Linked DNA regions of Homo sapiens: region 1 is linked to region 2. Evidence: fine-mapped QTL for protein levels in blood plasma. Region 2 holds a variant in brackets. A gene starts in the other region. All regions are shown on one strand. Distances are between the middles of the regions. Region 1 holds the start of CEACAM19 (CEA cell adhesion molecule 19). Region 2 overlaps CBARP (CACN subunit beta associated regulatory protein).

Evidence for each region. PIP is the chance, under the fine-mapping model, that this variant and not a neighbour inherited with it causes the effect. Protein levels are from antibody-based Olink assays in UK Biobank. Linkage for the fine-mapping came from a reference panel and not from the study's own genotypes, which makes the PIPs less certain.
Region 1: CEACAM19 starts here. The variant in region 2 is fine-mapped to the plasma level of the CEACAM19 protein (UK Biobank, PIP above 0.99).

What each region holds. Positions count from the first base shown.
Region 1 is chr19:44,669,900-44,672,798 of GRCh38, reverse strand. CEACAM19 (CEA cell adhesion molecule 19) reads right to left here and starts at 1,317. Exons shown (of 8, transcript NM_001127893.3): 1 at 813-1,317; 2 at 1-203. The coding sequence starts at 867.
Region 2 is chr19:1,234,961-1,237,859 of GRCh38, reverse strand. CBARP (CACN subunit beta associated regulatory protein) reads left to right here. Exons shown (of 10, transcript NM_001393918.1): 1 at 1-104; 2 at 1,739-1,864; 3 at 1,942-2,081; 4 at 2,295-2,359; 5 at 2,715-2,859. The coding sequence starts at 1,760. Among named protein-coding and RNA genes, the nearest start is that of CBARP-DT, 1.5 kb to the left of the region's middle. The variant C/T (reference allele first, on the strand shown) is at 1,463.

The DNA of each region.
Region 1 (2,899 bases), 43 Mb before region 2:
CCGTTGTATCCCAGGGATGTAGGTAAATAGCCTCGTGCCTCCGTACGTCTCCTCCCCCAGGTACCAGTTGAAGTCCTGGAAGGTGTCTGGGACACCCTGGACTGACAGGAGAAGGTCCTGGTTCTTTTGAGGCTGCTCTGGAATCTTCTGGATGTAGAGAGCTGCCTGGGAGCCTTGGAGCATCCAGAGGACCAGGATTGAGGCTGTGGGAAGTTACAGGGAAGGGCTGAGATCAGGGGTGTTGCCAGGGACCATGGCATGCTCCTCTCTAGATACAGATCTTCAGCGGGGAGCAAGGACTCTGAGTGCTGCTCATTGGAAACAATGCTGGGATTGATTAGTGATGTCTGCCCTGGGTGCAGGAGTGGGAACACAGGCATGGTTACCACAGATTTGCCATCCTGTTGATCCAGAGGTTTTTCTACCTTGAGATGCTGTGTGGCCTGCTTCTAAACACATGGACTCTCTGAATTCATTCATTCATTCATTTATTCAACCAATACTTATAGGCATATGTAATATATAAGCTATAATACCAACTATATGTAATACATCTAAACTTCCTTCAATTTCTAGACACTGGAGATATAGCAGGGAACCAAACATACATAAATTCCTGCCTTCATGGTCCTAACATTATAGAAAATTCCATAGATAAAATGGCAATGAGGCTGTGATTCTGTTGCCCCTCCCCCATCTTATTCTAATTTCATCCTCTCAGGTAATCTTTCCCTACTTCTAAGAGGAAACTTCAATCTCTGGGCTGAGTCCCCATTTCTCCCCTTGGCCTTTAGGGTCTATTTCCTCCTTACCTGAGAGCAGGAGGCTCTTTGAGAAGCAGCCCTGGGTCCCCATGGGAATCTCCATCTTGGCGTCTTGTGGAAATGCCAAGGGGCCACGAGCTGGACACTAAGGGGGCCAGAGGGGTGGGCCCTGGCTGTCTGAAGTAGGCCAGCTCAGTGGGGATCCCAGGGGTGCCTTAGAGACACCGCTGGGGCTGGCCCAGCCCCAGCATGCCCTGTCCATGGGCTCTGGAGGCTCCACCTATACTCCCTGGGATGGGAGCACAGACAGAGGTTGAACCAGTTTTTCAGGGTGACTGGGGAACTTCCCAGGACTCCTCCCCTGACCCTCTTCAACCTCTTTTTCTCACTCAGCGTGACTACAACAGCAGTCACTGTAGCAATAGTCATAACAGCCTCTGTTTGAACAATTCCCCTGGGTTTGTTCAAACACACACTGCCTCATTCAGCAGCCACCATAAATAACTGTTCCCATTGCACAGATGTGGAAACAGAGGCCCAGGAAAAGAGGCAAGTCTGCCAATAGACAGAGGTGGGATTTCACCTGTGGCTGACTCACTTGAAGGCTCTGAGGCAGGCTGGGTGCGGTGGCTCACGCCTGTAATCCCAGCATTTTGGGAGGCCAAGGTGGGTAGATCACGAGGTGAGGAATTTGAGACCAGCCTGGCCAACATGGTGAAACCCTGTCTCTACTAAAAATACAAAAGTTAGTCAGGCGTGGTGGTGGGCACCTGTAATCCCAGCAACTGGAGAGGCTGAGGCAGGAGAATCACTTGAACTTGGGAGGCAGGGGTTGCAGGGAGCCGAGATCGCGCCACTGCATTCCAGCCTGGGTGACAGAGCGAGACTTCGTCTCAAAAAAAAAAAAAAGCTCTTAGCCTCGTGTTTTTCTTTTTTTTTCTTTTGAGATGGAGTTTCGCTCTTGTTGCCCAGGCTGGAGTGCAATGGCGCAATCTCAGTTCACCGCAACCTCTGCCACCTGGGTTCAAGCGATCCTCCCACCTCAGGGAGTAGCTGGAAATGCAGGCATGCGCCACCACGCCCGGCTACTTTTGTAGTTTTAGTAGAGACAGGGTTTCTCCATGTTGGTCAGGCTGGTCTTGAACTCCTGACCTCAGGTGATCTGCCCACCTTGGCCTCCCAAAGTGCTGGGATTACAGGTGTGAGCCACCGCGCTCAGCCTGTTTTTTTTTTTTTTTTTTTTTTTTTTTTTTCTTGAGACAGGGTCTTGCTCTGTCTTTCCATTCATGAACATTGGTTGTCTTACCATTTAAATATGTCACCTATAATTGCAAGAATATTTTGTAGTTTTTGGATTGGTTTCTTTTTTAGATGCTGTGTCACCCAGGCTGGAGTACAGTGGCACAATCTCAGTTTACTGCAACCTCCGCCTCCCAGGTTCAAGTGATTCTTCTGCCTCAGCCTTCTGAGTAGCTGGGATTACAGGCATGCGTCACCATGCCTGGCTAATTTTTGTATTTTTAGTAGAGATGGGGTTTTGCCATGTTGGCCAGGCTGGTCTCAAACTCCTGACCTCAGATGATCCTCCTGCCTCGGCCTCCCAAAGTACTAGGAGTATAGGCATGAGCCACTGCACCCAGCCCCAGAGTGTATGTTTTGTACTTTTTTGGATCATGTTTATTCCAAGTGTGTTATTCTTTTTTTTTTTTTTTAAGACAGGGTCTCGCTCTGTTGCCCAGGCTGGAGTATAGTTGCATGATCATTGCTCACTGCAGCCTCCAACTCCTGGGCTCAAGCAATCCTCCCGTCTCAGCCTCCTGAGTAGCTGGGACCACAGTTGTGTGCTACCATCCCTGGTCAATTTTTATATGTTTTGTAGAGATGGGATCTCACTATGTTGCCCCAGGCTGGTGTTGAACTCCTGGGCTCAAGTGATCCTCCCACCTTAGCCTCCCAAAGTACTGGGATTACAGATGTGACTCACCATACCTGGCTTAGCCTAGTTTTTAAAAAGCATCCTCCATTCATTCCAGCACACATTCCCAGTGCCCAGTTGTGTGTGCTGGGTGATGTTGGTGACACAGTGATGATTGAGACCACCTCTGCTCTGCCCTCTGTCCACAGTAGGGCACACA
Region 2 (2,899 bases):
TCTCCGCCTGCTCCGCGGCCACCGGGCGCCGGAGCCAGCCGCGAGCGCCACGCAGCCGCCCGCCGCCAGCCCGCCGCCCATGGGCCGCTCGTCCCGGCGCTGAGGTAGGCGCGGCGGGCTCGGGGCTGCGGGGGGCGGACGGGGGACAGGCCGGGGATCGCAGCCGGCTGTGGGCTAAGCGGCCGGAGGGAGGGCGCGGAGGAGTCCGGCGGGCGTGGGGACCGAGATCCGGGCCTTGCGCCCCCCACCCGGCTGCCTCCAGAGGGACCCCCGCTCAGGCCCCGCCCCAGCCTCAGTTTCTCCCTGTGAGGTCGGGCGAGGACGATGGCGTCTCGGCTCAGCCCTGGCGTCGGGTCCCTGCCTCCCCTGGCTCGCCATCCCCACCCTTGGCCGGCTCGGGGGCGCGGTGCTGCCCCGTGGGGAACCTCCGCCCTCGGCTCCCGCAGCCGCCTCCCCCAGGAGCCCCCCTCTTCCCCTCGGCCTCCTGCCATCTTCCCCGGCCTCCGGTCACCATCCTGCGCCTGTCCCCACCCCCTCCAGCCTGAACTCATTTCCCGACCTACATATGCGGCCCCTTCCCCCAGTACCAGGGCCCGGGCAGCCTGTGACCGGGAGCGCTGAGGACACCAGCCCCCGCCGGGACCCTGCCCGGCTTTGGGCCTCAGTTTCCCGCTGTCGCGTGTGGGCGGAAGTCCGGGAAGGGCAGGAGCGGCTGCCGCCTGTGCGCTCCTCTCGCTCCGGGAAAGGTCTCGCGCGTGCGGTGCTGACCTGGGGCCGCCGAGCACCCCGGCGCCAGCCCCGACCCCCTGCGATTCCCGGGCCTCCCCACCCGGCTGCGCCGCACAGCGTCCAGGCGGCTCCTTTCCCTGGTGCCGCGCCCCGCCTCAGTTTCCCCCGAGCGTAAGGCGGCCGGGGATGCTCCGGGCGCCCGGGCTGGGCACGGCGGGGAGGCGGCCGCGGCCATCTTGCGGCTTCGCGCCCGCCCCCCCGAGGCCGCCGCCCCCCCCCAGGCCGCCGCCCCCGCGCCCCCTCCCCGCCGCTCCCTGGCAACCCGCCCCCCCAGCCGCGGCCTGCTCCGCAGTCGCCATGGGAACCAGCTTCTCCGGGGCTGGGAACAGATGCGCCTTCTTTGTCCCTTGCACTCCCACCAGCACTCAGCACCGGGGAGACCTCCACCTCCCGGAGTCGTGACCCGGGAGCACGCGCCCAGCCCCTGCACCCTCCCTGGCGCGCAGGCAGCGGGAGGTCTCCCTCTACCCAACCATGGCCGGGTGGGCCCTGCCAGGGTGTAGCTGAACTTCTTGGGGTGGGGGTAGCCCCCCACCCCCGTGATGGGGCGGACAGGGCGTCTGGAGTCCTTCTCGAGCCGGCTGCACCGCCTTGGCGTCCCCATTCCTCCGAGTGCTTGCCCTGCCCAGCGCTGAGCTCCAGGGCCTGGCGCTACCTTGCAGGACAGGCCGCA[C/T]CGGCTGTGTGCAGTTGTGATGGGTACAGGCGCACCCTCAGAGGGCCAGGCCTCCTCCCCCGCCATGGGGATGGGAGATGGAGGTCCAGAGAGAGCCCCCGGGGCCCGCTGGGCAGAGCCAAGCCGGGTGGAGGCTGCCTCCGGCTCTGCTACCTCTCCATGAGTCACTGCCCCCTGTGTGGGCTCCTGCTCCTGCAGGGAAGACCCAGCTTGTCTGCAGTGGCTCCTGCAGGAGAAGTAGGTCTAGCTGGAGCTGACCAGGCTTCCTCCCCACAGGGCCCTCCTCCCCAGTTCAGAATGCAGCCCACAGCCACCATGGCCACAGCCGCCACCACCACCACCACCACCACTGCCACAGTAGCCCTGACGACGTCGTGGGACAATGCCACTGGACGCCCCACGGTGGGTGCAGGGGACAGGTGGGAGGGGCAGGAGGTCGTCCAGGCCAGCAGCACCTGACCCCCCCTGCACACCCGCAGGCAGAGCCAGACCCCATCCTGGACAACTACGTGCTGCTGGTGGTGGTGATGTCGCTGTTCGTGGGGGGCACGCTGGTGGTGTTGTCTGGCGTCCTGCTCCTCTGCAAGCGCTGCTGGGACGTCCACCAGCGCCTCAACAGGTGCGAGGCCCCCACCTCGGCTGGGCAGGTGCATGGTGGTTGTGGGTGCCATCGGGTGGTGGGGGGTCTACCTCACTGGCTTCTGAGTCACAGGGTGGGCTATGCCTCTGGAGACTGGGTGATGCGCAGGGCTTGGCTTGGGGCAAAGAGCCGAGACCCACTGTGGCTATCTGGGCCCTCCGTGCCACTGGGCTCTCCCAACGTCTCTCCCAGGGCCATGGAGGAAGCGGAGAAGACCACCACCACCTACCTGGACAACGGCACCCACCCAGCCCAAGGTGAGGTGCTGGCCAGCCTGGCTGTGCGCTCGCCTGTCCATCCGCCCCTCGGCCACCCGCCGCCCCCTCGGGCTGCCTGACCGTCTGTGTCTGTCTGTCTCCCCCACCAGACTGGGCGCAGCTCGATTCCGACTCATCTCTGTTTCCTTAACGCCCAGGCGTAGGTGGGCCCAGGCGCGTGCTGAGCGAGTGAGTGTGTGAGCGGATGGACGAGTGTCCCTCGCCCCGCCAGCCCGGCCGCCCGTGCCGCGGCCCCAGCCCTCCCTGCCGTGGCCGCCCGGAGGAGCAGCCCTCCCGGGACCAGGCGCCTGGCGTGGCCCGCCCGGGGCCCACCCTCTCCTGCCTCTCCACGCAGACCCCGACTTCCGGGGAGAGGACCCCGAGTGCCAGGATGCGGAGACCGAACGCTTCCTGTCCACCAGCTCCACGGGCCGCCGGGTCTCCTTCAATGAGGCGGCGCTGTTTGAGCAGAGCCGCAAGACGCAGGACAAGGGTCGCCGGTAAGCGGGGCGGCGTTGGGAGGCACCCCAGGGCCTGTCT